7 linked regions of the Homo sapiens genome follow. The protein of the gene in region 1 interacts with the protein of each later gene in a pairwise test. Each region holds a gene or a part of one and is shown on either strand. Other genes may lie near its edges. The genes, in order: ZNF20, VWCE, KRTAP9-2, TRIM23, PECAM1, VWC2L and MTCL2.

What was found.
Region 2: the proteins of ZNF20 (region 1) and VWCE interact in binary tests that used the Homo sapiens proteins (3 or more experiments, as listed by UniProt).
Region 3: the proteins of ZNF20 (region 1) and KRTAP9-2 interact in binary tests that used the Homo sapiens proteins (3 or more experiments, as listed by UniProt).
Region 4: the proteins of ZNF20 (region 1) and TRIM23 interact in binary tests that used the Homo sapiens proteins (3 or more experiments, as listed by UniProt).
Region 5: the proteins of ZNF20 (region 1) and PECAM1 interact in binary tests that used the Homo sapiens proteins (3 or more experiments, as listed by UniProt).
Region 6: the proteins of ZNF20 (region 1) and VWC2L interact in binary tests that used the Homo sapiens proteins (3 or more experiments, as listed by UniProt).
Region 7: the proteins of ZNF20 (region 1) and MTCL2 interact in binary tests that used the Homo sapiens proteins (3 or more experiments, as listed by UniProt).

Annotation. Positions count from the first base shown.
Region 1 is NC_000019.10:12,130,088-12,134,458, reverse strand, and holds the end of ZNF20 (zinc finger protein 20), read left to right. Parts: intron 1-473; coding exon 474-1,872; 3' UTR 1,873-3,109; downstream 3,110-4,371. UniProt on the Homo sapiens protein: May be involved in transcriptional regulation.
Region 2 is NC_000011.10:61,292,176-61,297,430, reverse strand, and holds the start of VWCE (von Willebrand factor C and EGF domain-containing protein precursor), read left to right. Parts: upstream 1-2,114; 5' UTR 2,115-2,393; coding exon 2,394-2,503; intron 2,504-5,255.
Region 3 is NC_000017.11:41,224,356-41,228,152, forward strand, and holds KRTAP9-2 (keratin-associated protein 9-2), read left to right. Parts: upstream 1-2,292; 5' UTR 2,293-2,299; coding exon 2,300-2,824; 3' UTR 2,825-3,297; downstream 3,298-3,797. UniProt on the Homo sapiens protein: In the hair cortex, hair keratin intermediate filaments are embedded in an interfilamentous matrix, consisting of hair keratin-associated proteins (KRTAP), which are essential for the formation of a rigid and resistant hair shaft through their extensive disulfide bond cross-linking with abundant cysteine residues of hair keratins.
Region 4 is NC_000005.10:65,617,472-65,622,091, forward strand, and holds part of TRIM23 (E3 ubiquitin-protein ligase TRIM23), read right to left. Parts: intron 785-4,620; coding exon 622-784; intron 1-621.
Region 5 is NC_000017.11:64,380,348-64,384,967, forward strand, and holds part of PECAM1 (platelet endothelial cell adhesion molecule precursor), read right to left. Parts: intron 1-4,620. UniProt on the Homo sapiens protein: Cell adhesion molecule which is required for leukocyte transendothelial migration (TEM) under most inflammatory conditions.
Region 6 is NC_000002.12:214,413,767-214,418,386, reverse strand, and holds part of VWC2L (von Willebrand factor C domain-containing protein 2-like isoform 1 precursor), read right to left. Parts: intron 4,274-4,620; 5' UTR 4,194-4,273; coding exon 3,804-4,193; intron 1-3,803.
Region 7 is NC_000020.11:36,779,542-36,783,957, forward strand, and holds part of MTCL2 (microtubule cross-linking factor 2), read right to left. Parts: 3' UTR 1-4,416. UniProt on the Homo sapiens protein: Microtubule-associated factor that enables integration of the centrosomal and Golgi-associated microtubules on the Golgi membrane, supporting directional migration. Preferentially acts on the perinuclear microtubules accumulated around the Golgi.

The sequences.
Region 1 (4,371 bases):
GTTGGCCAGGCTGATCTCAAACTCCTGGCCTCAAGCCATCTGCCCGCCTCAACCTCCCATGGTGCTGGGATTACAGGCGTGACCCACCATACCCAGCCAATATAGATCACTTTTTTATTTTTTTATTTTTTTTTGAGACAGAGTTTCGCCCTTGTCACCCAGGCTAGAGCACAATGGCGCAATCTCAGCTCACTGCAACCTCTGCCTCTGGGGTTCAGGCGATTCTCCCAACTCAGGCTCCCGAGTAGCTGGGATTACAGGCACCTGCCACCACGCCCAGCTAATTTTTGCATTTTTAGTAGAGACGGGGTTTCACCATGTTGGCCAGGATGGTCTCAAACTCCTGACCTCAGGTGATCTGCCCACCTCAGCCTCCCAAAGTGCTGGGATTACAGGAGTGAGCCACTGTGCCCGGCCCTATAAGTCACTTTTAATCAAACCGTTAATAATGTGCTTCTCATTTTTCACTGAAGTCTTATGAGAGAGAAACTCTGTGAAAGTAAAGAAAGTCATCACTGTGGAGAAAGCTTCAACCAGATTGCAGATGACATGCTGAACAGGAAAACTCTTCCTGGAATAACACCATGTGAAAGCAGTGTGTGTGGAGAAGTTGGCACGGGTCATTCATCTCTTAATACGCATATCAGAGCTGACACTGGACACAAGTCATCTGAGTATCAGGAATATGGAGAGAATCCATATAGAAATAAGGAATGTAAGAAAGCCTTCAGTTATCTTGACTCCTTTCAATCACATGATAAAGCTTGCACTAAAGAGAAACCCTATGATGGTAAAGAATGTACAGAAACCTTCATTTCCCATTCATGCATTCAAAGACACAGGGTAATGCACAGTGGAGATGGACCTTATAAATGTAAGTTTTGTGGGAAAGCCTTCTATTTTCTCAATTTATGTCTTATCCATGAACGAATTCACACTGGTGTGAAACCATATAAGTGTAAACAATGTGGTAAGGCCTTTACTCGTTCCACTACCCTTCCAGTACATGAAAGAACTCACACAGGAGTGAATGCCGATGAATGTAAAGAATGTGGGAATGCATTCAGTTTTCCTAGTGAAATTCGTAGACATAAAAGGTCTCACACTGGAGAAAAACCCTATGAGTGTAAGCAATGTGGGAAAGTCTTCATTTCTTTCAGTTCCATTCAGTATCATAAGATGACTCACACTGGAGAGAAACCCTATGAATGTAAGCAGTGTGGGAAAGCCTTTAGATGTGGCTCACACCTTCAAAAGCATGGAAGGACTCACACTGGAGAGAAACCCTATGAATGTAGGCAATGTGGTAAAGCCTTCAGATGTACCTCGGACCTTCAAAGGCATGAAAAGACACACACTGAGGATAAACCCTATGGATGTAAGCAGTGTGGGAAAGGCTTTAGATGTGCTTCACAACTTCAAATTCATGAAAGGACGCACAGTGGAGAGAAACCCCATGAATGTAAGGAATGTGGAAAAGTATTCAAGTATTTTTCTTCCTTGCGTATACATGAAAGGACGCACACTGGAGAGAAGCCCCATGAATGTAAGCAATGTGGAAAAGCATTCAGGTATTTCTCTTCCTTGCATATACATGAAAGGACACACACTGGAGATAAGCCATATGAGTGTAAGGTATGTGGCAAAGCCTTCACTTGTTCCAGTTCCATTCGATATCATGAAAGGACTCACACTGGAGAGAAACCCTATGAATGTAAGCACTGTGGTAAGGCCTTTATTTCCAATTACATTCGATATCATGAAAGGACTCACACTGGAGAGAAACCCTATCAATGCAAGCAATGTGGCAAAGCCTTTATTCGTGCCAGTTCATGTCGAGAACATGAAAGAACTCATACCATTAATAGATGAGAAATCCTTTTAGTGGAAGCAACGGGAGAAGCTTTCTGTTGTCCCACTTCCTTTGAAACACAAGAAAAGAGAGTGGTGAAAGAACCTCTGGATAACTGCTTTTTGAATTGAGAAGAGAGACTTGCGATAGGACAATAAAATCTAGAAGAACTTGGATGGTTTCGTAATACAATTCACCTATAGCCAATCTTGCATGAGATTTCAAAGGCACAGAAAAGGAAGGCATCAGTCACATATTAGAGGCCCCACACAGGGAGAGAGGTGTGTGGCTACCCGCTTCCAGCCCATTTTCCTGATTCTTTGGCTTGTTAATCGAGAATATCCCCCAAATCACTTGTCTCTGTTCCTCAGAGTTGTAGGTCTCCAGATATGTCCCCAGTGCTCCACATTAAAGATACATGCCCACTTTGCTGTTTCTTCAGAAATGTTAAAATGTTTACCAGAGAACTAATAAATGTTGTTATGGCTGGAAATACTCACTGATGCCCAACTCTTCTATAGATTGAGTTGGTTTAAGAGGTCTACTTTGTATTGCAAGCATTGTTGTTTCTACGGATTAGCGAGCCTGTTCTTGATTAAACCAACTAGATGGGAGCTTGTTCCTCTGCTGCATTGTGCAGTGATTGGTCTCACCAAGGGCTTTTATGTGAGAAGAGCCACCTTGCTCTTATCAGGAAATTTCAAGCATTTGCTGTTATTCACAACTGAATGTAATGTCTCACTTCGTTTTTAACTTTGTATGAGTATACCTGACTAAAAACACTAATGCGGTTTCTTGGCAACAAATACTTCTGTTCATGTATTTTAGAAATAAGCTTATTAACTGTTTATAACAACTGCATACTAACAATTATTATTTTTTAATGAAGAAGCTACATTACAACCTCCCATTAACATCATGTATTAGATCAAGTTGATAATGTTACCATGTTATCCGGTGGTCACTGTGAGTCAGTGTTGCCATGTGGATGTCAGGCATATTTTTCCTCATGTAGATTTTACTTTTCATGCTTATATTCTTAGTTTTTATCTGGATCATGAATTTTCATCTATTCTAAATACCAAAGGTGATCTCATGTTCTTATGAGTGACTTCTGACCAAAGACCACCAGTGGCATAAGTGTCGTCAAAGAGGGTGTAATAATATACTGTGGTAATGAATATGACCAAAAGCCATAGATGACTGTGAGATGTGTGAGATATTAAAAGATAGTCACATTTCGTGAGAAGAGAAAAATTTGGGGTATGTTTGCAATTTAAAGTGTTTTCTTCTGTCACATTTCAAGACATGGTTAAAGAATGAGGTTTTTTTTTATTTTAATTTTTTTTTTTTTGAGACGGAGTCTTGCTCTGTCGCCCAGGCTGGAGTGCAGTGACTCGATCTCGGCTCATTGCAAGCTCCGCTTCCTGGTTCACGCCATTCTCCTGCCTCAACCTCCCAAGTAACTGGGACTACAGGTGCCCGCCACCGCGCCTGGCTAATTTTTTGTATTTTTAGTAGAGACAGGGTTTCACCATGGTCTCGATCTCCTGACTTCGTGATCCACCCGCCTCGGCCTCCCAAAGTGCTGGGATTACAGGCATGAGCCACTGTGCCCTGCCAAGAATTAGTTATTTTTGTATTGATCCATCATGGTCACTGAAGAGCATCATCTCACATTGCAGGTGTATGACATGTGCCTGTTCAGGGGCAAAAGACTCGGCCTTCTGGCGAGGGGAGGCCAGCCATCAGACTTCTGGACCAGTTTTTACCATACTATTCTCTAAACCCTGATATATTCCCTACAATTTATGGACATTGTTAACCATAACATACCTCAGTTAAAATCTATAAATTCACTTCTTATCAAGGTATATACTATGATTTTATTTATTTATTTTTTGTAGAGATGGAGTCTCCCTGTTTCCCAGGCTGGTCATTGACTGCTGGATCATGTGATTCTTCTGTCTCCATCTCCCCAAGTTCTGGGATTACAGACATGAGCCACCACAATTGGCTACTACTTTTTTAAAAAAATCACCTTGAGTCCTATGGGGCCAATATGTTTTTGAAAACTGAATTTCCTGCCCAGTAAAGAACAAAGTCAGCATCACTATTCCAATCAAGTCTTTCTTTCTCTGGTAACATGCTGTTGATGCAAACTTGTCAGGAACCCTCTTATGCTAATATTATGAAGCTAATGACATCGTGGAAAAGTCATGCATGGAACAATCCGATCATTTCCTTTAAGGTGTCATGGGTGCTTCTCTTCACAAAAGCTTATTTCAGTCTCCCTAGAGTAAAAATCCCAGTCCCAGCAGACATAGAAGCAATCACTGACTGACCAAACCTTAACTATGTGTGATGACATATGGAAAATACCTTGATTTGTGAGATATGAATTTTTTTTTTTTGGAGACAGAGTCTGGAGGACAGTGGTGCAATCTTGGCTCACCGCAACCTCTGCCTCCTGGGGTCAAGTGATTCTCCTGCCTCAGCCTCCCAAGTAGCTGGAATTA
Region 2 (5,255 bases), on another chromosome or scaffold:
GCAGGTGGGGCTCCATAATGTAGCTAAGAACAGAGGTAGCTGAGGTGTGCTGGAGTGTGAGAAGATGGCATGAAATATGGAAGCCATGTGGACACTTGTTCTGTGTATGCCTGTTGAAAATTTGGGTAGCTCCCCTAGGGCCAGGAAAAAAGAGCACCTATTTGACATTGGTGGTTTAGGGGCAGTGGAGGGGGAAAGTGTAACCTTCAGATGTTTGGGGCAAGAGAGAAAGATGCCTTAGGATTCCGAGGGTCCTTGGGACTCAGAATGGATATGACGGAAATTGCATTCATCTTATGTTACAGAATATTTTGGCTCCTACTTGTTGAGAATATGTTGACAAGAAAATGGGCCAAAACAAACAAGGTGAGATACGGCCTCAAGGTGAATGTCTGCAAAAATGTAGCCACAAGCCGGGTGCGGTGGCTCACGCCTGTAATCCCAGCACTTTGGGAGGCTGACGTGGGTGGATCATTTGAGGTCAGGAGTTCAAGACCAGCCTGGTCAACATGGTGAAACCCCGTCCCTACTAAAAATACAAAAATTACCTGGGCATGGTGATGTGCGCCTGTAGTCCCAGCTACTCGGGAGGCTGAGGAAGGGGAATTGCTTGAACCCGGGAGATGGAGGTTGCAGTGAGCCGAAATCGTGCCACTGCATTCCAGCCTGGGCGACAGAGAAAGACTCCATCTAAAAAAAAAAAAAAAAAAATGGGGCCACACAGCTTCAGGTAGGGAGACCACTTGGCAGCTTGTGTTTAAATAACATAAAAGCACAACAAAAAATGCCTGCTTTTTTTCGTTCTTTTTTTTTTTTGAGATGGAGCCTTGCTCTGTCGCCCAGGCTGGAGTGCAATGGTGCAATCTTGGCTCACTGCAACCTCTGCCTCCTGGGTTCAAGTGATTCTCCTGCCTCAACCTGAGTAGCTGGGAATACAGGCGCCCGCCACCATGCCCAGCTAATTTTTGTATTTTTAGTAGAGATGGGGCGTCACCATATTGGCTAGGCTGGTTCTGGAACTCCTGACCTCAGGTGATCCGCCCACCTCAGCCTCCCAAAGTGCTGGGATTACAGGTGTGAGCCACCGCGCCCGGCCACCTGTGGTTTTTCTTTACTGCAAACTCAATGTGTCATAATTAACATCATGGGGTTGCCAAAAACGTAATATTAGGGTGCATTAGTAAAAGTATGGTGTCTGCAGGAAGGAGGCACGAGTCCAGGCCACCGCTGGTACGCCATGTCCATTTGTGGCCACCAATGTTAAGCACCTCAGTAAAGGCAGAGGTAGCAGGAAGGCCAAAGGAACAGGGATTGTTCAACTGGGAAGTGAAGACACTTTAAAACAAATGTGGTTCAAAACTGGATTGGGCCGCTTCTTAACAGATAGTGAGTTTCTTACCCCTGGAAGTATTTAAGCAAAATCTTGACTAATTGTGGGTGGCTAAGGGAAAGATTACTGCATGGAGCAGAAGGTAAAATCAGTTATCCTTTCAGCTTTCTCCCAGCGGGATGATTTTGATTTCCGCACCCCTTCTTTGCCTAAATCCCTAGGCAGCCCCCCAGTCTCTGACCACGGCCTGGGGCAGCTGCAGAAGGGGCAAAGAGGAGCCTTCCAGATCTGCTGCTGCCTCTCCACTGCCAACGGCGCCAGCTGCTTCCTGGTCTTGCCACCAGCAGTCGGGAGGCCGGCCATCTGCCCCCTGGGTGCCCAGAGGAGCCCGGGGCTTCAAAAGTGGCTAGGGCCCCAGGCCAGGGAGCGGTTGGACCCACAGATCAACGCACTCCGGCGTTAGGGTGCAGACCTTCTGGCAGGCTGGGGGCAGGCCTAGAACTGCTCAGCGGCACAGCGACCTGGCGTCGTGGGTTCGAATTTCCACGGTTCCCACCTCGTCACAACAAGGCGTCTCGGGTCCCACCGACAGGGGCCATGCCCGGGGCGCGCAGCCTCTGGTGCTAGCCTTGTTCCCGAAGTCTGTTTCCTCCCGGGGCCTCGGTCTGACGCCTTCAGTCAGCGCTTCGCAGGAAGCCGACTCCCAAACCGGGGCAGGGGGTGTGGGCCGAGGGCGAAACCCCGCCCCCAGGGGTCCCTGATCTTTGCCCCCGCCCCGGGCTCCGCGCCTCTCGGAGAGGCATCAGCAGGCGGGCGGCGTTGCCTTTGTGTGTTTCGCTTCGAGGTGCCAGAGACCCTCCCCACAATCGTCCGCCGCGTCCCCTCGCGGCCCTCGGCCCCTCCTCTCGGCGTCCCAAGCCCCCCTGCTCAGCTCTGCGTGCCATTTCGGGGATCGCTGGTTCGCTCCCCACGGCGCCAGGAGGAGGGGCGAGGGCCGGCAGCCCCCTCTCCCGCGCGCGGCGCAGGAGCCGAGCCCAGCCCGGGGGACCCGCCGCCGCCGGTCATGTGGGCCGGACTGCTCCTTCGGGCCGCCTGTGTCGCGCTCCTGCTGCCGGGGGCACCAGCCCGAGGCTACACCGGGAGGAAGCCGCCCGGGCACTTCGCGGCCGAGAGGTAAGCGCCCGGAGCTCCTCCCCGCTCCCCCGCCCGGGAGAGCGCTACCGGCGTGCAGTCGAGAGGCGCGGAGGGGCGCTCAGGAGCCGCAGGCAGCCGCGTGTCGGGGCTTCCTCTGGGGTGCTATCAGCGCGGGCACAGCTCGGGGACGGCACAAAGAGTCAGCAACTTGTGCCTCTAGGCGGGTGCTCATCGTGCCCCCCTGGCTGGGGCTGTCCAGACTGGGACCTGGGAGATCGGAGGTCCAGGCGTTGGGTGACTCCTAATGTGCCCTGGAGCGCGGACCTCTGGAGAGGGGAGCCCAGGACGTGCCATCTGGTCTCCGGACTGGCTGGCTCACCCCCCAGCGTGCCCGTGGCTCTGCCCGGGCAGCGCCTGGCCTCCCCTGCCGCGCGGGGCTTTCCCTGGGTCTTGGCCCTACGAACTTCATGGACCTTGGAACAGCCGGGGTCTCTGGGTCACTTTTCGTTTTCTGTCCGTGCGTGTGCGCGCGTGGGGGTGGGGTGCATGCCCCTCCGCTGTCTTTCGCGATGGATGCCGCCCTCCGCACGTGCTTTCCCCCGGGCCGCGGTGGGGCCGTGCGCGTGTGTGCGTGATGCTCGGAGCTAGGGAACACTGTGTCAGCAGGCGGCCTGGCCCGCGGCCACGTCCTCCGGGGGGCGCGCAGCGGGGGCGGCCCGGCCAGGCTTGTAGCTCACACGTGTGTTCCACAGCCACCGCCAGTTCCTGCTCAGAACCTGCCCCGACTCCCCGGCGTTCCACAGGCTCCCACCACCTGTCCCTCTGTCACCAGCCCTAGGAGGCTCCTTAGGGCGCTCTGGCGGGTGCTCGGTCCCTGCCCACCTGAGAGTTCGACTCCATCAGCCTCCCTGGGCACCCTTTTATCTGCCGCCTTGGTGGCACTGCCTGTCCGTTTCTGAGAGTCCCAAGGCTCCGCTCATTCGCCCGGTCCCCTCCTTCTCAGGCTGCTGCCATAATCACTCCAGCAAGGGGGTGGATGAGACTTCACTGCCAGCTCCCGCCAGCAGGAGGGCCCCCCCTTTCTTCTGTGATGACCTCAGAGAGGGAAAAAGGCCCCAGGGACAGCTTTCCTCAGACTTTTGTGTGCTGCCATTGCACCCTGAGCTTCCCTTTCCGGAATACTTGTCACATTTTGGCACAGATTTTTCTCCCCAAGAACACGCTAAGTTTGCCTTGTCCCATGTCCCCAGTGCCCAGCGCAGAGTGGGTGCTTTACAAAGTGCCTGCCTCGCAGAATCATCTTCCCTCCGCTCTGAACATTGGTGGAACACCATTGGGAAGGGGTTTCTTGTCCCTTTTCTGTTGCGGTGGGGTTGGAAGCTCAAACCAGGCTGGATTTCATCACCCTCTGTCCAGTCCATGACTGGAGCTGGTTGCAGTTGTCCTCTCTGTCCCCCTCCAGGCCTGCAGTTGTGCTGTTTCCCCTGCTAGAACACCCTCTCCCTTCCTCTTCTTTTGCTGGCTGCCCTACTTTTTTTTTTTTTTTTTTTGAGACAGAATCTTATTCTGTCACCCAGGCTGGAGTGCAGTGGTGCGATCTCGGCTCACTGCAGCCTCTGCCTTCTGGGTTCAAGCGATTCTCATGCCTCAGCCTCTCGAGCAGCTGGGACAACAGGCACATGCCACCACACCTGGCTAATTTTTTTTTTTTTTTTTTTTTTTTTTGAGATGGAGTTTTGCTCTTGTTGCCCAGGCTGGAGTGCAGTGGCGTGATCTCAGCTCACCGCAACCTCCGCCTCCCAGGTTCAAGCAATTCTCCTACCTCACCCTCCCAAGTAGCTGGGATTACAGGCATGCGCCACCATGCCCGGCTAATTTTGCATTTTTAGTAGAGTCGGGGTTTCTCCATGTTGGTCAGGCTGGTCTCAAACTCCTGACCTCGGGTGATCCGCCCGCCTTGGCCTCCCAAAGTGCTGGGATTACAAGCGTGAGCCACCGCGCCCGGCCTGTATTTTTTTTTTAGTGGAGACAGGGTTTTGCCATGTTGGCCAGGCTGGTCTCAAACTCCTGACCTCAAGTTATCTGCCTGCCTTGGCCTCCCAAAGTTTTCTCTCTCACCTCAGCCTAGATGCTGCCCTTCCAGGAACCCCCCCTGACCCTCCTCAGGGCTCCACAGTCTGTCCCACTGTGGCATTTGTCACTCTATGCTGTTATCACCTAGCTCCTGGTCTGCCCTACTTTCCTTGAAGGTGGGGGCAGTAGTTTGTTTATGGCTGTATGGTCACGCCTTACTCAGCACCCAGCACCAGTTGGATGCATCTGGCTTCCTGCCCTTTCTGGACCTCATTCCTGCTTGAACAGACCCCTACTGCCTCCAGTTTTGGGCAGCTCATTCATGACCCCACACCCACCCAAGAGATGTCACCTATGCCATTGCCCTTCTCAACCTTTCCCTCAACAGCCATTTATTGAGCACCTACTACATGCCAGGCACTCCTGTACGTGCTGGGGTAAATAGATAAGAAACCCTTGTCATCAGGGAGTTGTAGGGGAGACAATGAATTAATAAATTAAAATCTAATGTCACAGGAAGTAAATGTTGTGGAGAATAAAGCAAGGTAAGGGTGGACAAGGAAGGCCTCTCTGAGAAGGTGCCATGGGCAGAGATCTGGGTGAAGGGAGAGAGGAAGCCCAGTGTGTGTCTGAGGAAGAATCTTTCTCTCTCTCTTTTTTTTTTTTTTGTTTTGAGACGGTCTGGCTCTGTCACTTAGGCTGAAGGGCAGTGGCGCCA
Region 3 (3,797 bases), on another chromosome or scaffold:
GTCTACTTATATTCTCAGGAAACTCAGTGTTTACTTTCCACTCTCTTCAAAAATCTACATGTAAAACTCAGTGCAATAGGCCTGTTGTTAGAGAGCTGCATGGGCTCTCATGTTTTATGTGTTTGTTAATCAAGTGATAATCTGATACCACTGTCTCGTTATTTGGGATCCACCAATCACACTTTCCCCCAGGTTCTCCTCAATGAATTTAACTGATACCTACATATGCTGATGTAATTTCCTCCTCCTATAATTTGAGTTGCAGATTAAAGACAATTCCTCACTCACGTTTTCTAGATTAACACAATATTGTTGTAGAAATGACTAAGTACAGATTTCAGATAATTGGGCTAGACTTCATTGTTTCTGTCAAAGTAGATAAGAAAGACTACAACTGGGCTACAAGTATCTCCTGGGAGTTCCCCCCATGGGGTGTGTGTGTTTGAAAGGGACCCATGGGATAGTCTAGTGCCCCTGTTGAAAAAAGAACTGTTGATCCCCAAGCCCACACTCTGCAATAGAACTGCTAGAGTATTTCATGGGGCATGAAATTGCCTTTAGAAAAACCAATACAGGGGGTCACATCAAGGTCAAATTGGGCACAGAAGGGTAGGAATTTTGCTATATTCGGAATTTCTTTACTTAGAGAAGGTAGAGGAAATAGAGTAAGAATAGGAGAATATATTTTTGGAATGCAATGATAGTAAATATCCTAAACAAAATATAAGTAAATAAAATCCAATGGCATATACATATGATCGTAACCACATGAATTGTTTTCAGAAATGCAAGACTGGGCTAATATTTGAACATTAATCAACTTTTAAAATAACACATTTTGGGAAGCCGAGGCAGGTGGATCTCTTGAGGTCAGGAGTTTGCGATCAGCTGGCCAACATGGTGAAACTCTGTCTCTATTAAAAATACAAAAGTTAGCTGGGCATGGTGGTGTGCTCCCATAGTCCCAGCTACTCAGGAGGCTGAGGCAAGAGAATCTCTTGAACCCGGGAGGTGGAGATTGCAGTGAGCCAAGATTGTACCACTGCACTCCAGCCTGGGTGACGAAGCAAGACTCTGTCTCAAAAAACATAGAATAAAACAACACTTACTGAAAAGGTAGAATAATCATAACATTATTTCAGCTTATAAAGAAAAAGCATTTTGTAAATTTCAGTACATTTTCAGTTTTCTGTCTCTCAGAAAATAAGGAATAGAACAAGACCTGTTGCTATGATGAAATGAATCTACAAAAAAGACAGAAAGCATCGTAATTAATTGTGAAATACTGAGAGTTCTCCTTTCTATCCAACGAATATAAAAAGATATACACTACACCATTCTATTAGACATTGCCCTGGAGGGTCTACCCCTGGACAAGGGCCAAAAAAAAAGCAAGATTAAAAATACTCTTATAAAGCGAAGAAAACTATTACTATTTTTTATGAGTCATGACTGCACATGTGCAATTTTCTGTCACACCAAAAAAAAATACAAAAAGTATTAGAATTAACAAGCTAGGACCAGAACTCAGCTTGATTTGCCCGAATCTAGAGCACTTACGTCACAGAGAGTCCCATGCTGGTAAACCCTTCAGTCCCAGGCAAATCAGGGTAAATGGCAACACCATCACAGAGACACTCGATGCTTTCTGAATCCCAGTGGACTCCTTTTTCTACCCACCTGCTTTGGTCTAGCTCTGCATTTTGGAATACATTGTGCCAAACACCCTTTCCCTAGTGAGTGTAATAGAACTGGAAGACACAGGTGGAATAGTTTGTAGCGAGAAAGATGCTTGTTACTCTTGAATCAGACTTTTGTGGGTAAATAGGCTTGGTGCCGGGCACGGATTCAATGCATCACTGTGAACATAACAGCATCACGCGACTGCCCACAGACATTTCCCAGTCTACATACAGTCAACCATGAGGCTGGACAGAGAGAACTATCTGCTTCCCGGATCACCAGGAACTATCACATGACCAGATGATGGTCAGAGCAGGAATGATGCTGGTGATGAGACTGCCTTCCTTTTATCTGAAACAAAGTTTTTATGAGTAATTCTCAATTAAGAAACAGATTAAACCCTTACTTTCAAAAGATTCATAAGATTTCAGAAACAACTTCCCCTTTGACAATCGCAAAGGGAGTATGGAAAACAGTGTAAACAACAACAAGGAAAAGTCCTGCTGATTGGTGGAAACTTTGGAGGCCAGATGTATAAAAGGTCCAGATTGCAAGGGGTCATCAGATTCTGGGAAACTCACCTCTGAACAGAAGCCCACCCTCCACCCCTGACACCATGACCCACTGTTGCTCCCCTTGCTGTCAGCCTACCTGCTGCAGGACCACCTGCTGCAGGACCACCTGCTGGAAGCCCACCACTGTGACCACCTGCAGCAGCACACCCTGCTGCCAGCCCGCCTGCTGTGTGTCCAGCTGCTGCCAGCCTTGCTGCCGCCCAACTTGCTGTCAAAACACCTGCTGTAGGACCACCTGCTGCCAGCCCACCTGTGTGACCAGCTGCTGCCAGCCTTCCTGCTGCAGCACACCCTGCTGCCAGCCCACCTGCTGTGGGTCCAGCTGCTGTGGCCAAACCAGCTGTGGGTCCAGCTGTGGCCAGAGCAGCTCCTGTGCACCTGTGTACTGCAGAAGAACCTGCTACTACCCCACGACTGTCTGCCTGCCTGGTTGCCTAAACCAGAGCTGTGGCTCCAACTGCTGCCAGCCCTGCTGCCGCCCAGCCTGCTGTGAGACCACCTGCTGCAGGACCACTTGCTTCCAGCCCACCTGTGTGTCCAGCTGCTGCCAGCCTTCTTGCTGCTGATCACGTTCCAAGAGAACCACCATCCTCACACAACAAATTTCTGCTCAACTGACTCATCTTTTGGGGGACTAATTTAATTTGCTGCTGACAGCCACCATGCTCTCACCCAAATTTTTATGAATTCTCTACATGTTTAAAATCTTGGAAATCTGCTTGAGGGAGGGCAGAATACTTCATCCTGATTCTCTTTTTCCTTACACCTTGTGGATCATGTGCCAGCTTCATCTGTTCTCAAGTTTGAGTCATGGTCTCAGCTTTGACTCTAAAGTCAAGAGCTTCATTCCCTGCTTCTAAGGAATTTAGGTTTCTGCAACTGATCGATGATCTTTGCAATCTTTTTTTTGTTTTCAATATCCTCCTCATCGTTCTTGTATCCTTCTTTCTTCTTTTCATGATAAATTTGTGTTGTGTCCCTGGTAGCAGAAATCCTTACCTATATGTTTCTGAATAAATTCTGAACCATCCTCATCTCATATAGTGTTTTGTTTTATTTGAAAGCACTCCTGATATGGGATTTACACACATATCACATACCATAGTTATTATCCAATTTGATTCTCAAAACAGGTGGTCATGCATTATTACCTTCATTTTTCACCTGAAAAAAAATTAATATGTGATGTTATGTAGCTAATAAAGGACAGATTCTGATCCAAGCTGAGGTCCTCTCTTTCTGCCCAAGGACACTTACATTTAACTCTCAACATAGTAGAAATGACATTGGAAGTCAGCACTAGCAAGACATGCACTTGAGTTTATTTAACAATGAGAGAAATAATCTCTCATATTTGCAAATAATATTTTTATTCACAAAAAAATCCCAAATTATTTTTTCCCACACCTCAGTGAGCAACAGCTGCATGACATGGCAGCAGGGATTGCATTTAATGGCTGCCCTGAATGCAGGGATCTTTTTGTCTCAGCCTCTGACCAGCCAATCATTCAATTCATCCGCATCAAAAAGATGCTTGAG
Region 4 (4,620 bases), on another chromosome or scaffold:
TTACGTTTGTAAAATAACTGTTCAAATGTTAGTAAATGCTATTATTTCCAAATCTGGTATCTGAAAATAACTTAGTTTGAAATACGTAAAGAAAAGTTTTAAAAGTATACAGAAAACTGCAAAAAAAAGCCACAAACCCTTCAAACTCATTTTAACAGAAAATAAAGAGTAATTATCACAAGCTACAAACACTTCTGTCCTTGATATTAGTAAATAAAAACATGGTGAGACTCAAATGACTTATCTGTATTTTCATTATTGGCTTATTTATTTGTAAAGAAAACATTGTTCTATTGGGTTTATGGCTTCAGGCAAATGATTCACTCTGTGATACACATTCTTATTTATTTGAATCAGGGTAGCACGTTTTTCTCAGGTGTCTTAAAGCTCTTTACAGATAAGTATTGAATATAAACATCTCAGAAGATAAAATAAAATTAGTAACTAAGAGTGAGATAGTTTATAGCTTGAAGATTATTGACCTTAATAGAAACTTAGGCTTTCTGAAACTTTCTGGGAATTTTATCATTCTAAAAATCAAGTGGAAGGACATTGTTTCCTATGACATTTGCATTACATGAACAATTTTCAATCTTAAATCCATACAAATACTTTTCCTACCTAGGTCTGTTACTTGTCGATCAAATGGGCAACGGATTGCTCTTCCATGAAGAGGTAGGCGAGTGAGACAGTCATGACAGACGGTATGGCCACAAAGCAAAAGACGGGGAACTTTGTCTCCTTGCAAAGAAAAGACATCTTCACAAACTCCACACTCTAGCACCTAATATTTGAAAAGGAAGGATGTGCTCTTTAAACAATTTTAAAAGCATACATATTTTAGGTATATAAGAAAATTCACCTAATATATTGAATCAACATTGTTACTTTATTCCTCTATGAAAAAAAAACTATGTAGGTTGTAAAATCTTGAATCACTTTTAAGTCATTCCATTTGACCGACCCTGTCAAAATTATATCATAATGAAATATCTTTGAAATACTAAGTGTTGGGGCAAAGATGCTGTAAATTAACATCTTTGTTATCTTTTGAAAATTATGATTTCAGTCATTACATCTGAATCTGTACAAACAATATGTAATTCTACTGAAGGTGGGTTCTTAAGCAATTTCTCTGCAACTACCTAACCCATCATTAATTTCAACACAAATAAACTATCATTAATTTCAACAAAAATAATCTAAAATATGTACTGAGATAACAATTACCCCTGCAAATGATAAAGAACTTGTTAAGAAAAGACTGCAAGTAACTTTCAAGTATCTTCTACTATCTAATGTACATTAAATAATACAAAGGCAAAAAAAGCAATCATCTTAAATTTCAATTCCTGTTCTCTATCAATAAATATAGCTCTGAATTAGAAACTAGTTTGTCTTTCTAGCTCTAGTTACAGACACATGACTTGCACAAGGCTACACAGTCAGTCAAAAGAAAGGCCATTTATCAGCATATTCTGATTCTCAAGTCCATAAGTTTATGTTTTACAAATAGTCAACAAATTGTATTTATAGCAATAAAGCATTTTCAGCACTTATTTCTAAGTATATTTGTAGTGTTTCATACCTTGCATTAATTTTTTAAAAATACCCACACTGTACTATTCAATCATACCTCAAACTCCTGTCATTCAAGACCTGCTACAATCTGGTCCCTGTCCTATTGCTTCACTGCCATACTCTTCTGACCCTATGCTCCAACTATATCCAACAGCTTATAGTTCTCAGAACATGAGAAACTGTTTCATGTCTCTTCATGCTAACACTGAGGAAAGGACTATACTTGTCCTTTGGGCCCCGATGTACTCTGTATAAGCGTCTACCGTAACACCCAAAACACTTTAATACCTTGGTCTTTTAGCCCGTCTTTCCCTGTTGGACCAAAGAACCCTCAGGAACTGGGTATTTTAAATACCAAGTACCTACTGCTTACATAAAGTCCAGTAAAATAATTTAAAAACAATTAAGCTCACCATCATCAAACACACAACACGAGGTAAAAAACAGAAAACCCAAGGCAGAAATCAGACTAAATCTACTATGATTTTAAACCTAACTCTACAATTAACTTGGACTTAGTGCTTGAGATGCAAATATCTTTCACCATACAGTGATAATTCATAATTGCTTTGCATCTTATCATGGTTCAAAAGAAATTTAAATTTAGTCCTTCAATGTAAATAAGGGTTTGGGAAGATAAAAATGAATAAAAATAAGAAACATAACATTGTTCAGAGAAAAGAAGATGAAAATTCTTTACGTGAAAAGATGTTCAATCTAACTCATAATAAGAAAAATGCAAATTAAAGCTAGGCATGGTGGTTCATGCCTGTAATCCCAACACTTTGGGAGGCCGAGGCGAGTGGATCATCTGAGGTCAGGAGTTCGAGACCAGCCTGGACAACATGGTGAAATCCCATCTCTACTAAAAATACAAAAAAATTAGCCAGGCATAGTGGTGGGCGCCTGTAAGCCCAGTTTACTCAGGAGGCTGAGGCAGGATAATTGCTTGAGCCTGGGAGGCGGAGGTTGCAGTGAGCCAAGATCACGCCACCGCACTCCAGCCTAGGTGACAGAATGACACTCGGTCTCAAAAAAATAAAGAAAGAAAAATGCAAATTAAAGCTACATCAAAATACTTTTTTCAGATTAGATCAAAAATGTTGGTAACATTTTGTTAGTGAAGGTGTGGGAAAGCAGACACTCTCATACATTACTAATTGCTATGAAATGTTTATTGAGCAATACAGCTTCTATGGAGGGCAACTTGACAATACTTACCAAATTTAAATAACTCAGTAATTCTAGTTGCAGGAATTTATCCTACAAGCATACTAGACACGTGTGACAAAATCTGTATGTTACTCCTTAAAGCATCATTTGCATTAGCAAAAAATTGGAAAGAAAGTAAATATACATCAATATCAGCTTGGAAAATAAATTGTGGCACATTCATAATACTATAAAACTATATAGGATAGTGAGAAAGATGAAGTTTTTCATATATACACAGAATGATTTCATATGATTAAAACAAAAAGAAAAATAATAGAATATATTCATTTTTGCATAAAGGTGGGGAAAGAGCAAATTTTTTTTGTATTGTTGTATAAGCGTATTGTCTTCCTGGAAGGATACATAGGACACCAGTAACATTGGAACACTGGTTCCCCATGAAAAAGGCAAACAACTGGGGAACAGCTATCCACGTATAATTCTGTCTATTATTCATATATACACATACTTCAATTTATCCTACATTTTTTAAAAAGGGGAAAGTTTCACGTTATCAAATTCTTTAGGCCAGGCACTGTGGCTCACACCTGTAATCACAGCACTTTGGGACACCAAGGCAAGAGGACTGCTTGAGGCCAGGAGTTCAAGACCAGCCTGGGCAACACAGCGAGACCCTGTCTCTACAAAAAAAAATCAAAAACTGAGGTGGGAGGATCATTTGAGCCCAGGAGGTCGAGGTTGCTATGAGCCATGATCGTGCCATTGCACTCCCACCTGGGTGACAGAGTGAGAACCTGCCTCAAAAAAAAAAAATTCAATTAAATATAGAAAAAATATTCATAGGCTGGGTGCGGTGGCTCACGCCTGTAATCTCAGCACTTTGGGAGGCCAAGGCGGGCAGATCACGAGGTCAGGAGATTGAGACCATCCTGGCTAACGTGGTGAAATCCCATCTCTACCAAAAATACAAAAAATTAGCCAGGCGCGGTGGCGGGCACCTGTAGTCCCAGCTACTCGGGAGGCTGAGGCAGGAGAATGGTATGAACCTAAGAGGCGGAGCTTGCAGTGAGCCAAGATTGTGCCACTGCCCTCCAGCCTGGGCGACAGAGTGAGGCTCTGTCTCAAAAATTCACAATAGAATTTGATATAAAATAAATGCAACATTTTATAAATGCTGTATTATGATACTCTAATAAAGTAAATTTATGACAATAAACTCCAAAGAACCATATTAAAATTGTTTAGTTCATTTCAATCCTGTATCTCTGATCCCATCACTATACAAAGATTTAAAAGAACTTCCTTATGCTGTTAATGTATTTTTCAAAAAGCACTAATAAAATTCCATTGATTAGCAAACCAAACACAGGTCCAAAAATAAAGTTACTAGACTATTTTGCATCAACTCGGTAAATAATACAGCAAGAAAATATTTCCTCAGTATCTATAAATAGGAATTGTGGTTAACAGCAAAAAACCCTAGATAGGAAAAAGCTCTTAATTTTACACTTCAAAAAATGCCAAAAAAGCTTCAAACTTATTACTTGTAAATCAAACTGTAATCAATCAGATATTTTATTTTATGTTGTTATTTATTATTATTATTATTTTTTTTTTGAGAAAGGGTCTCACTCTGTCAGCCAGGCTGGAGAGTAGTGGCCTGAGCATGGTTCACTGCAGCCTTGACCTCCCAAGCTCAGACAATCCTCCTGCCTCAGACTCCCAAGTAGCTGGTACCACAGGCATGTGCCACTACGCCTGGCTAATTTTTTTTTATTATTATTTGTAGAGATAGGATCTCACCATGTTGCCCAGGCTGGTCTCAAACTCTGGGGCTCAAGCAATCCTCCCACCTCAGCCTCC
Region 5 (4,620 bases), on another chromosome or scaffold:
AAAAAAGAGAAAAAGTAATTGATCTGTAGGGGATTTGGAAAAAAATGTACTGAAAGTCCATGACCATAAAACCAGGTGTTTTTCCCAAATCCCTACACGTCCCCCCAGAAATTTCTACCATGCCCATTCTCAAGGAAGCTACCTATCCAGCATTTGGACCTGGGATTGAAAGTGACTATGTCTGGTATGCTTTCTTAGCCCCCCATCTATCTCCATGAAGTATGAATAATGCAATCATGGAATTTTTTAAAATTTTTGAGTGAATGGAGCAGTCCAATGTTTAAAACTCTCAAAGACAGATGACATGATATGTAAAAACCTCAAAGAGTCTGCAGACAAATTATTAGAAATAAATGTGAGTTTAGAAAGGTGGCTGGATAAGGCCAGGAATGGCAGCTCACACCTGTAATCCCAGCACTGTGGGAGGCCAGGAGTTCGAGATCAGCCTGGCTAACATGGTGAAACCCCGTCTCTACCAAAAATACAAAAATTAGCCAGGCATTGTGGCATGCACCTGTAATCCCAGCTACTTGGGAGGCTGAGGCAGGGGAATCACTTGAACCTGGGAGGCACAGGTTGCAGTAAGTTGAGATCACAACACTGCACTGGGCGACAGAATAAGACTCTGTCTGCAAAAACACAAACAAACAAACGAAAAAGAAAGGTGGCTGGATATAAGATTAATATTTTACAAGTCAGCATAGTGGTCATCTCTGGAGGGAGGGGCTATGGGGTAGGGAGAAGCACAGATGCAAGCTATTAAATGGTCTTTTGGGATGTTGGTCTGGGATGTTGATGAGATATTGTCCCTAATTTCACAAAGTGTTCCAACAGCACCAGGAAACACTGTGTTTATGCTGAACAACTGATTCATTTCTATCTTGTGGATTCTGAGAATGTTCTAATGGACCTTGTTCCTCTTTTTGCTTTGATTGTTAACACACAGCAAAAATTTCACCTCTGCTTCTAGCAATCTTTGGGATGCGTTTGTGCTAAATGGGCCATAGCTTTATTTCCCTGCCTTTATTTTTCTCTCATCCTGATTTCCTCATTAATTGTATCTCATTGAACAATACATAATTTTTATAAGTGGTCCCAAGTCATTTTTTTGGAATAAGAAAAAAGTTAGTTAGCTAGCTGGCCAGAGATACTGGCAGAACCTGTCCTTTCCCTCTCTTTTAACAAAGTTAGGCCTTTGTTGGGTAATTTAAAATTTAATCTTCAATTTTAAAACGAGTACTACAATTTGCGCCTGCTGCTATATTCTGAGCAATTAATTTAACAACAACAACGACAACAAAAATGGTGTCTGACCAGTCCATGAGATGAAACAAGGTGACGGTTTAAATTCAAGTCATTTCCCACAGCATTACTCTTTGGAACTCCCTTTTTTGTCTTTATATGCAACTTACAAGCTCCTGATTTAAGAAGCCTGCTGGATGAGCTCTCGACACACAACTTTCTTTGGACCAGCCGGGCACGGTGGTTTATGCCTGTAATCCCAGCACTTTGGGAGGCCGAGGCGGGTGGATCACTTGAGGTCAGGAGTTCAAGACCAGCCTGGCCAACATGGTGAAACCTCATCTCTACTAAAAATACAAAATTAGCCGGGTGTGGTGGTGGGCGCCTGTAATCCCAGCTACTTGGGAGACTGAGGCAGGAGAACTGCTTGAACCTGGGAGGCAGAGGTTGCAGTGAGCCAAGGTCATGCCATTGCACTCCAGCCTGGGAAATAAGAGCAAAACTCCATCTCAAAAAAACCTTTTTTTCCTTTGGACCATATTAATTTCTCTGCACTCCTCAATTAATATAGTTCCCTCCCAACCACTCTCTTCCCTCTCAGAGACAGTTAGGTCTCCTTCCATTACCTCTTCAGTACTTCCTCCTTCATTTTAAGCTATGCTGTGTATTCCAGTGACTCAACCAGGAGATACTAAAGAGCAGAAATCAAGTGCACGGAGCCAGACCTGGGCCAAATCTCATCTCTGCTACTAACAAAGCTGTGTGACCTTTGGCAAGTCCCTAAATTTCTCTGAGCCTCAGTTTGCTTATCCATACAATAGGCACAAGGAATGTAAGTATAAATGAGAACCTGAGTTTAATTACTTAAAGTAGAGTTCCTGGCACCTATAAAGTGCTTGAGAAATGTTAGCTAGATTCTTCCAGTTACAGAAATAAAGTCGACTCTTTTTTTATTTTTTAATTTTAATTTTTTAGAGATGGGGTCTTACTATGTTGTCCAGGCTATTCTTAAACGCCTGGCCTCAAGCAATCATCCCGCCTCAGCCTCCCCAAGTGCTGGGATTACAGGCATGAGCTGAAAATCAACTATTCAGAGCTTTAAAGCTGTGTCTCCACTACATGTTTCTAGGGATTTTTTTTTTTTTCAAATAAAAACCATATTTAAGGCTGGGCGTGGTGGCTCATGCCTGTAATCCCAGAACTTTGGGAGGCTGAGCTGGGCAGATCACTTGAGGTCAGGAGTTCGAGACCAGCCTCCTGGCTAACATGGTGAAACCCCATCTCTATTAAAGATACAAAAACTAGCCAGGCGTGGTGGCAGTTGCCTGTAATCCCATCTACTCGGGAGGCTGAGGCAGAAGAATCACTTGAACCTGGGAGGTGGATATTGCAGTGAGCCGAGATTGCACCACTGCACTCCAGCCTGGGCAACAAAGATAGACTCCATCTCAAAAAAAATAAACAAAATAAAAAGCATATTAAACATTTTCAGGTTAATTTAAAGCGACTTCTCCAGCCTCCCAGTTTTGCTCACTCCACTGCGTGCTCTCCACACGAGTCATTCATCTGCTCTCCTGTTTACTGAACGAGCTGCCCATCCCTGGCTGGTTATGCCCTAGACCAGCAGACAGTGCTGGGTACAGAAGGGAGTCAGACATACCAGATTCAAACCCGTGATCCCACAGTGCTTAGCTGGGTGATCTCGGGAGTTATTTAACCTCTCTGGGCCACCACGTCTCTGCCTACGAAGTAGGAACATGAATACCTGCCTTCTCTGGTATCTTTAACCTAAACAGTGACTGCGCCAAAGTGGCTGAGGGCACAGAAGGGGCCGTGTATATATTGCCCAGTGCCTGGCCTCTGGTTGACATTCTCTGCCTTCTTCCTTAGCACCATTCATAGCAAACATTTAAGGGGGTTTTTCTGTGCCAAGCACTGTCCCCCATACTGGGGGTTCAGAGAACAGTGAGGCTGGCAGTGTCTGCCCTTGGAGAGCTCATTCTGCACTCCACAACTCTTCCTACTCTGGGCCTTCCAGCCTCAGCACAACCCTTGCGTGAGCCTCCCACTAACCAGTCCTAGTTCATTTGATTTTTATAAAAGCCCTCCCTTTTTAAAAAACAATTTTAAAGCAAATTTGGCTAATGCACCAAGCAGTGGTTTTTCCAGTAGGGATGGTACCCACTAGCATGGGGCCCGTCCACCATCTTGTTTTTCTAAGCAACTCTAACACACATTATCTGCTCAAATAAACAAACTCGGCAGGGTGTGGCGGCTCACACCTGTAATCCCAGCTCTTTGGGAGGCCTAGGTCGGTGGATCACCTGAGGTCAAGAGTTCGAGACCCGCTGGCCAACATGGTGAAACCTAGCCTTTACTAAAAATACAAAAATTAGCCGGGCATGGTAGCGGGCACTTGTCATCCCAGCTACTCAGGAGGCTGAGGCAGGAGAATCACTTGAATCCAGGAGGTAGAGGTTGCAGTGAGCCAAGATCACATCATTGCACTCCAGCCTGAGCAATAGAGCAAAAACTCCATCTCAGAAAATAAATAAATTAACAATAAACGAACTCAATGGATGCACTGGCAGGAACACCACATTCCCATGGCTAGCTCGAACAGACAAGGGAGAAGAGAGGGCAGGATGGAAAAAAGAAAAGCATTTTATAAACTCTGTTGAGATATGAGTCTCAGCTCTTCATCTTAACACAAATATCATCGACAAAACAACAAAAACAGTGACCTAGTTTTTACCGCCACAACCACCACCACCTCCCTTGCTATAGAAGCCCTTCAAGATGCCCCCCCCAATGGTCCTTGCCCTCTGCTCATCACACTTACACGTGGTCACCTCCCACGTTAACATTAACCAACAAAATACTCCATCAGGTAATAAAAGACAATGCAGCTTTTATCCTGATCACTCTCTCTCCTGTCTGGGATCCCTCATTCTGGGGAATGCCAGCAGTCATAGCATAAGCAGCCCTGTGGAAGGTACCCAGGATGAGGAACTAAGGCCTCCAGCCCATAGCCACAGGAGTGAGCTTGGAAGCAGATTCCCCAGACTCAGTCAAGCCTTCAGATAACCGCAACCCTGACCAACAATTTATCTGCAATCTAATGAGACCCGGTGCCAGCACCACCCAACTCAGCCACTCCTGCATTCCTGACCCTCAGAAACTTCAGGATAATAAATCTGTGTTATCTTAAGCCAGTAAGTTTTAGGTAAATTGTTATGCAGCAATAGGTAACAAATATACCACGCAACCAAACTTCAAAAGTCTCTGCCTGATTCTTGTTTTGATAATATGGAAAACATTATCATCTTTCTAAATAAACCAGCCAAGCACAGCCAAACTGAATTACTGCCTGTAGGT
Region 6 (4,620 bases), on another chromosome or scaffold:
CCAGCTGTATGGTCTTGGACAAGTTACTTACACTCTGCTGCTTCAGTTTTCTTATCCGTAAAACAGTGCTAATAAAAGTATAATTCTCACAGTGTTATTGTAAAATAAAATGTGTTATAATATACATAAAGCTCTTCACAGTATCAGACAACAGTTACTGTTCTTGTAGTGATGGTGTGTATAGCAGGCCGTGGGAACATACGGAAGGAGTGATACAGTGTGGGAGATATGAGGTAGGACAGACAGAGAGGGGTTTCCAGTTGAGGTGAGATTTAAATGGAGCCTTGAAGTGGTCCAGTAGGATTTAAACAGGGAGCAATGTTGAAAAAGTGTTCCATACTGTGGAACAGCAGTGCAAACACACAGGGAAAAAAAGCCACCAAGAGTTTGAGGGATTTGGAGAGGTTGATGAGTAGAATCTAGGCTACAGCAGGGAAATTAGATTTTACCCTGAAAACTGTCCTGAATGTCTTTGTGCTTGTGCACCTCATTCTCTTTTTTTCTGCAACAGACTTCCTTCCTCCACTATTAATTTCTCTTTACTTCTATTCAATTCTGTGCTTGGATATAGGACATTCATTTTTATTTATGTTTAACTAGGTCATCTATGTACAGAACAATCCGCATTTTATTTCCTATTATTCTTCAGATGAATCTAAATATTTTGGCCCAGTATTCAAGGCCCTTCCATCCACTCTCCACCGACACATATCTGAATTTGCCTCTTACTAGGATAGCATTTTAGTCATATCTAGCTTCCAATTATACCCATCTCCCTCCTCTTTGCAGACTGTATTCATCCCAATCTCTGATTTTGCTCTGGCAGTTTCGTCTTTGGAATTTCAGTCTTCCCAGATCAATTTCAAGTACTTCTTGAAGAACAGGCAGCTCTACAAGATGTATAGGGTTAGCATCCTGAAGACAAATCTCTTGCTTAACCAAGCCTCATACTATTTTGATAAGCTTCTGCCATCACAATCTCTTGGGAGTTATATTGGGATTTCATAATCATATACTTAACTTTTACCTGCTTTTTCCCCCTTCTCTCTTCACATCGATCATGTCTTTCTTGTGAGCAGAGATTTTGGTTTCTAGATATCCTACTTTCAATTGTAAGTACGTCTACAGTATCTTATCTACTGAACGGTCTGATAAATGCTTGTTGGATGAATATATTTATGTGAAGATTATCTCATAATACAACCTCCCTAATTGACATATCAACATTATTATATGAAAGTTTTATGCATCTTTAATAATTAATGACTTGTTCCTTGCAAGCTGAGTTGGAAGAGAATCAAGATGACAGATTATGGCTAATATTTACTTAGAGTTGTATGGTTCATAGGGATAAGTAGAGCATTTTAAAAAGGTATGAGAATTCTTCATTTGAAAGTCTTTTAAAGTTGAACTTTCATTATAAAATGTAGGCAAAGCCATAGAGGAATTTAGAATTTAGAGTAAATCCCTGGATATTAGAGTTAAGAAGGAGGGGACAATCATTTATTTAATACCTATTGTGTACCCGTCATCACAAGGTTAGTGACTTCAGAGAAATTATATGTTATTAAGAATTTCCAACCTCTCCTCCTAAGGAAAGTGATTATTACAATGGCTATTTTATGGTCAATACCACTATGGATCAAAAAGTTTAAGAACTCCATTCAAAAATTTATATCCAAGTGATGAATTTGGGATTCGAATCCAAGTCTATCTGACCTTAGTGACAAACTGCTTTGAGAGATCATATAGTATGTTAGAATGGCAGCATTTAGAATTAAGATAAATAACTTGACAATTTTGGATAAGTAATTTATACTTTTTTGGTCTCAGTTTCTCATTCTGACACATTTGCCCTATATAGTCTCTAAAACTCTTTATGACTCTAAATTCTTGTTAAAAAAAGTGATATCTATTATTTTAAAAATCACATCAAAAATTTTATGACACAAAAAGCCAGGTGAAAAAGCTGTGCATATTAATGGATCATACATTAGGAAAGAAGTAGTAGGGATTAATTAGATTATAGTAGGGTTATAACGAGAAGGGGTACAGAAATTATTAACTTTTTCTTTAAATACCTCTATATTGTTTGACATGGTAACATAGTTATTATCTTTGTAGTAAAATCTAATAAATAGAGGGAAAACTATAGCATTTTCAATAGTGAGTTAAGTTAGACAATATTTTCTTTATTAAATACAGATTACCAAATTATATAAATCTCAGAAACTTATGTTTTTATTTGTGCTAGTTATGAAACGCTGTTCCTACAATACCCTTTTGTATTCTAGTCTAGATATAAATGCAGGTTAGAAAAGGGTGATATGACTGCTAGAATCAAGTGTGTTGAGTACTTCTACTTACTTCCATTAAGATGACATTAAAAATAGGTAATGTCAAAATATATACAATATTTTAGAGATCATAAAACCATTAATAAATGTACTCTACTCTCAACTATTATTTGGTGTCAACAATGATACTTTTACTAGACTCTCATGCTTTTACTTCTTAATTTTGTGCAATAAAATAATACACGAAAGACAAAAGTCGAGAATAACATGTCTAAGGAAGTTGAATGTCACAATTAAAATTTCCCTTTTGTCCTAAGGAATCTAGTTCCAATGACTGGGTATTCTTGGGTAAATCAGAACTGGCTTGAACCGCTAACCTGGTTCATTCCAGGTTAATAATGAACTAAATACAATTAACTATGAATACACAGATTATGCTAATGATGATCAGTTGAGACCTTTTTTCTACATACTGATTTCTGGCACCATTTGACCCTTGTGGTGAGAGAAGTTGGGTCAGTGCTAATAATGGAAATGTCTTCTCTCATACATAAACACCCACACTGAAAACTAGCTATATCTGCTTTTACCTCTAAGGTTCTGAGCACCTCATCACAGAACTTGGTTAGATGAAATGGGAACATTTTATATAAAGCCATCAGTATGACAGACACTCCAGGCACAAACTGCCATTACATTTAAGGTGGACATTTTTCATGTATTCATACCTTCAGGGTTCAGATCAGGCTTGTAGGATATCCCAATTAAAACTAGCCATTGGGGAAAAGAAAGTTCAATAAGGGATAAAAATGAACTCTAAGCTACTTTGAAAATATGACGCAAGCGTAAAAGAAAAACTAAAAAATACCAGGTAGGCTGAAAAAAATTACAGTCTTTTTTACTACTCTTTACATGGATTGTGATAAAAATTCAGTTCTCTGTGGAATCCTGAAAGCAAAAAATCCAGCGAGCAGAGAACAGAATGGGGATCTTGCTTGACCACAAGTAGGCCCAATGCATTTTCTTAATATGAGGACCACAGCTAAGAAGTATATCTCTGTAGCTTTTCCACACAATAAACAAATAATTCTAGACTATATTGTTAAATGACTTCAAATACAGGCTAATAAGCAACACACAAAACTGACACAATTAAAAAATTAATTTAGGAGACACATACACTATACACAAAATTGTTCCCATCAGAAAACATATTTTGTAATAACAGAGAAGAAATGTTTAAGGGCAAAAATAAAAGGTGTTAGGTATGCCCCAAATACTTCTGGGAAAAAAAATAAAGGTTATTGTGCAACTTAACAAATATGATCAACAAACCAGTTGGCCATTTGTTGACCATGGTGCTACTTATGGTAATTAGAATCAAATTGTATAATTTAAAGGGAAATTTTAAAGTACATTTTTCCAACTCTGACTTTAATGTAGCAATGTACTAAGCACGTGGTATGAAAAGTTGATATTTCAATAAATATGGAGGGTAACGCATACCTTAAATTCCTCCAAGATTTTGTAATTTTTCCCGTGATATTCACAGAAGTTTTTTACTTCTTTGCACTCAGGACAGCATCCATTGTGTTCCACTTTAGTACACTTTGGGTGAATTTTAGGGCATTCTGGTTGGTCGCAAACAGGTCCATCTAGAGCACAGACACATGGACAGTTGGAATGCCCAGGGAAAAATCGTTCTCCCAACTTGTATACAAAGCCGCTGTCATCGACACACCCTTTCCCTCGATAGTCATCAAAGATCAGATTGTCATTACTGGAGATCTGGTCACCTTCATCAGCAGGATAGTCTTCATGACTGATAGCAGCAGAGGTGACCAATCCAGGGATGACCAACAGAAGTATGCAAGCTTCATGAATATGAAGAGCCATCCCCCTCTTCAAAGACTTCTGGATGTGCTCCTAATATTAAATATACTCAGCTCCTTCCATGGGAATACAAGAGGGGTAGGCTGAAAATAAATATTTAAAAAGAATAATTTGACATATATAAAGTGAAGATAGATTCATTTAAGCCCACGCTCTTAAACTGTTTGGGATCAATTTGAAGATACTAAGTCCTCAAATAGACTAAGTTCATGCAACTATCTGTGCCTTATTGTGAGGTTTGGAGAGTTGATACTTGGCAATATATGCATTAAAATTTGTCCTTTTGGATTATTTTATATAGGAACCTTCAGCTTGAATTTTCCTTCTGAATTTCATAGGTCTGGCTTTATCTAAATTGCAAAGAAATGGTTTTACTGAGCCCCAAAATGTGATCCAAGGAGTAACTTACAAATAGCTCAAGAATATTTGA
Region 7 (4,416 bases), on another chromosome or scaffold:
GGTTGCTGGGGCAGGGTGAGCCCAGTGAGAAGGGCTGGCAGGGCTGGTGCCTCCTGATGCATTGGAGGAAGAGGCTTTTTTTTGTGTGTGTGAGAAAACACAAAATAAATAAACACAGAACCAGGACACCACCACATTTGAGAGCAAATATCAGAGTTGGGAAACCACAGACGCGGACAGGAAGGCTTCCCTGGTAGGAAGCAGGGGGACAAGAAGCCAGTTACTGAGGTTACGGGAAAATCCGCACGAGGCAGCAGTGCTGGGAAGAACATCCTGGGAGGACTGAGGGCTGAATACTATAGTGAGCTCCGGACCCAGAAGAGGAAAACCTGGCATGGACCAGGGCCACTCCATTTGCTGGCAGGAACCAGCCAAGGAGAAGAGGAGGCAGGAGGACAAGAGGCTTTGGAGGGAGATGATAAAGAAAGAATGGGTGAGTGGTGGGAAGCAGACTGAGCCCAGAGAAAGGAAGGGGCTAAACCAAGATTACAGAAAGTCAAAGCAGTGTCTCATTCACTACTGGGGATGCAAGACCTGTTAGGAGTCAGGAAACCTGGGTTCTGGTCTTGGCTCTGCCTCTGGTTTGCGATGTGACCTTGGGTGAGCCACTGCCTTCTCTGGGCCTGATTCCTCATCTCAAAAAATGAGGGGGCTGGACACAAAAGGACAAATACTATATGATTCTACTTAAAAGAGATACCTAGAATAGGCCAATCCACAGAGAAAAAAAAAAAGTAGAATAGAGGTTACCAGGGACTGGGGACAGGGGGAGTGGGGAGTTACTGTTTAGTGGGTACAGAGTTTCAGTTTAGGATGATGAAAAAGTTCTGGAGGTGGCAGTTACACATTGCAAATGTACTTCGAGACACTTAGAAATCTTTAAAATGGTAAATTTAATGTTATGCACATTTTGCCATCATTCTTTTAAAAAGGAAGGGGTTTAGACCAAATTATGTTATGGCCTCCTTGCTATTCATGAAGACTAGTGAAGGGGGTGAGGAGAGTATTGTCCCCCACCCCAGGGCCAGGGCACTGAAAGGCTGGGCTGGGGACACTGAGTGTGATCAGATCACTTTCCATTTGTGTAGAACCTTACACTTTTCCAAGGAGACTCGCAGGCACAGTGTTGCAGTTGGTCCTCACCACAGTTACATGGGGTGGGACATTATCCTCACTTTACAGATGGGGAAACTGAGGTATAGACTAGAAACATGATCTCGCCAAGGTCAATCACGTTGGTGGATTATTTATTTTTTTAAATAGTCACCTGGAAAACATCCTTGCATCTTAGGTTCACCCGTTGACTCACCAACTGGCTCAGTGGCCCTTGATGAAAGGATACATGCTATAAATTAGTAGAAGAGTTCGTCTCCTGGGGCCAACATGCTTGCTTCCCATAATTGGATGATAAAAATTATAAATCCTGATGTGTTTCTCTTTTTACCAATGGCTGTCAGGAAACTCAAGAGTAAAACTTAATTGCATGATTATGGGAATTACACCAGTTAGATTTACAGAATAATTTCTCTTGCTTTTTTACTTCTTATTTTTATTTTACTGAACCCCTATGATTAAGATTGTAAATAGCCTCTGATGCTTTTTGAAAATCCTGAGTAATTAAATCAGTTTGGTTGAGGACTCGATCCCTTAAGTCCCTGCTCAGTGCTCTTTTTAAGATACAGCATCATGTTTATTGGTTAAAAGAAAGATGAGGCTGGATGCCGTGGCTCACGCCTATAATCCCAGTACTTTGGGAGGCCGAGGTGGGTGGATCACCTGAGGTCAGGAGTTCAAGACCAGCCTGGCCAACATGGTGAAACCCCGTCTCTACTAAAAATAAAAAAATTAGTCGGGTGTGGTGGCACACACCTGTAATCCCAGTTACTCGGGAGGTTGAGGCAGGAGAACTGCTTGAACCTGGGAGGTGGAGGCTGCGGTGAGCTGAAATGGCGCCACTGTACTCCAGCCTGAATGACAGAGCAAGACTCTGTCTCCAAAAAAAAAAGAAAAAGGAAGATGACCTGGCACGGTGGCTGATGCCTGCCTGTAACCCCAGCACTTTGGGAGGCTGAGGAGGGCAGATCACTTGAGCCCAGGAGTTTGAAACCAGCCTGGGCAACATAGGGAGACCCCCTGTCTCTAAAAATAATAATAATAAATAATAAATAAATAAATAAATAAAATAAAAAATAAATCTAAAAAAACTTAAAAAAAGAAAGATAGCCTAATAATCAGGGCCACGAACACCAATGGTGTGGCCAATAGTGCCTAAGATCCCCCGGGGAGGGCTGGTTTTATTTTTTATTTTTTTTGAGACAAGTCTCATTCCGTTGCCCAGGCTAGAGCGCAATGGCACAATCTCGGCTCACTGCAACCGCTGCTCCCCACCAGGTTCAAGTGATTCTCCTGCCTCAGCCTCCCAAGTAGCTGGGATTACAGGCATGTGCCACCACACCTGGCTAATTTTTGCATTTTTAGTAGAGACAGGGTTTCACCATATTGGCCAGGCTCGAACTCCTGAGCTCAAGTGATCCACCCGCCTCAGCCTCCCAAAGTGCTGGGATTACAGGTGTGACCACTGCACCCACCCCTCAACCCCAGGAGAGTTTGTTAAACATGCAAATTCAAGGTGGGGCCCAGGAATCTACATTCTGAACATGCCCTCAGAGAATTCTGCTGAATGGGGACCTCAGATCACCCTCTGGAATACACAAGGCTCAGTGATCTAGAATGGACTTGTTTTATGCCTGGGTTGGCCAGCAGCATATTCTGGGTATTCTGGACCCACCAAAAGCCCCCAGCAGGGCAGCGGATTTGCACAGCAAACAGGACAGAGTTGGACCCAAGTTCTCATCTAAACTCAGTGACTTCTCATGCTCTGGGATGAGACCTGTACCTCAGTTTCCTCACAGCAAAATGGGCGCACTAACCCATGTCCTGCCAAGGCTGCCTCCCAGAGTTGTCCCTGAGAGGTCTGAAGGAGATGTGGGGTGGGAAACGATTTCTTTTTTGAGATTGGGTCTCACTCTGTCATCCAGGCTGGAGTGCAGTGGCGCAATCTCTGCTCCTGCAACCTCCGCCTCCTGGGCTCAAGCGATTCTCCCACCTCAGCCTCCCGAGTAGCTGGGATTACAGGCACGCACCACCATGCTCAGCTAATTTTTTGTACTTTTAGTACAGACAGGGATTCACCACGTTGGCCAGGCTGGCGTTGAACTCCTGACCTCAACTGATCCGCTCGCCTCAGCCTCCCAAAGAGCTGGGATTTCAGGCGTGAGCCACCATGCCCGGCCAGGGGAAACGTTTTCTATATAGTAAAGTGCTTTAGGCGGGATGTGCAGGGGATGATGATAACCATTGTTATTACTATTATTATGGAAGAAGTAGTGGGAGCTTGGGGGGTCTGGTGAGGCTAGAAGCAGGGGACATTCTAGATAGGAGGGGAGAGGGAGAAAGAGCCTGGACGCTGGGTGGGCCAGAGGAGAAGAGGCTGGGTGATGAAACCATAAAAGTGCATGCGGGTGGACATGATGGAACCATGTCAGCAAGGGTGTAAGAGGGTCAAGTCTTTGGGCCCTTGGCCTTGTCACATCGGAAGCCAACCGGTAGAAGAGTGCACCTGGGGACACCTAGAGGTGGGACCCATCTTGAGTTCATAGAAAGCAAGACCTCTTAGAGGTCAGCCTTTGGTGGGAAATAAACTGGGGGAAAGGGCTGGCACAGGGTCAGAGGATTGGATTCTGATGTCTCGTGTGTGCAGGCCTAAGAGCCACTGATGCACCAAAATGACTTGATTTGCATTCCAATGAAGTCATCATTCCAAAAGGGGCTGATTTGGCTCTGGAAAGAGGTGAGACATAAGAAACATGAGGTTTCCCAGTTTAGGGCCATCATGCCAACTGGTCCCCCATTTCCGCCAACCAACTGATGCCAACCCCATGGACCCAAGCCAAGTGGTCTATGGGGGATTGAGCCCCGAGGGTTCCTTGGGACTTTGGTTGAAGAGAGAGTGGAGATGGGGAAAACAGAAAGAAGGATAAAGGAGGAGAAGAAGGGAATAGCAGTAAAAGGCAGAGAGGCAGGAGGAAGGGGGAGAACGGGTTCGAGAAGGGCAGCATTCCTTCTTGGGACCCCAATTCTCCAGGGAATCCCCACTGTGGGTCAGGCAGTTTTCTGCTTTGGGAATGTTACCAAGACTTAAAAGGCATTTGAAGAAACCAACAAACTTAGAAATCACATTCCAAAAGAGTAGAGAATTTTTACAAACCAATCCCCCCACCCCAAAAAAGAAAACAACCAGTTACCAAGTAAAATGCTAAAAACCGAACCAAACCAATATTTACATGTAACATTTTCAACCCCATCCAGCCCCACGTCCAGAGGCTTCTGCAGGAACAGTGATGAGTGGCCTTGCAC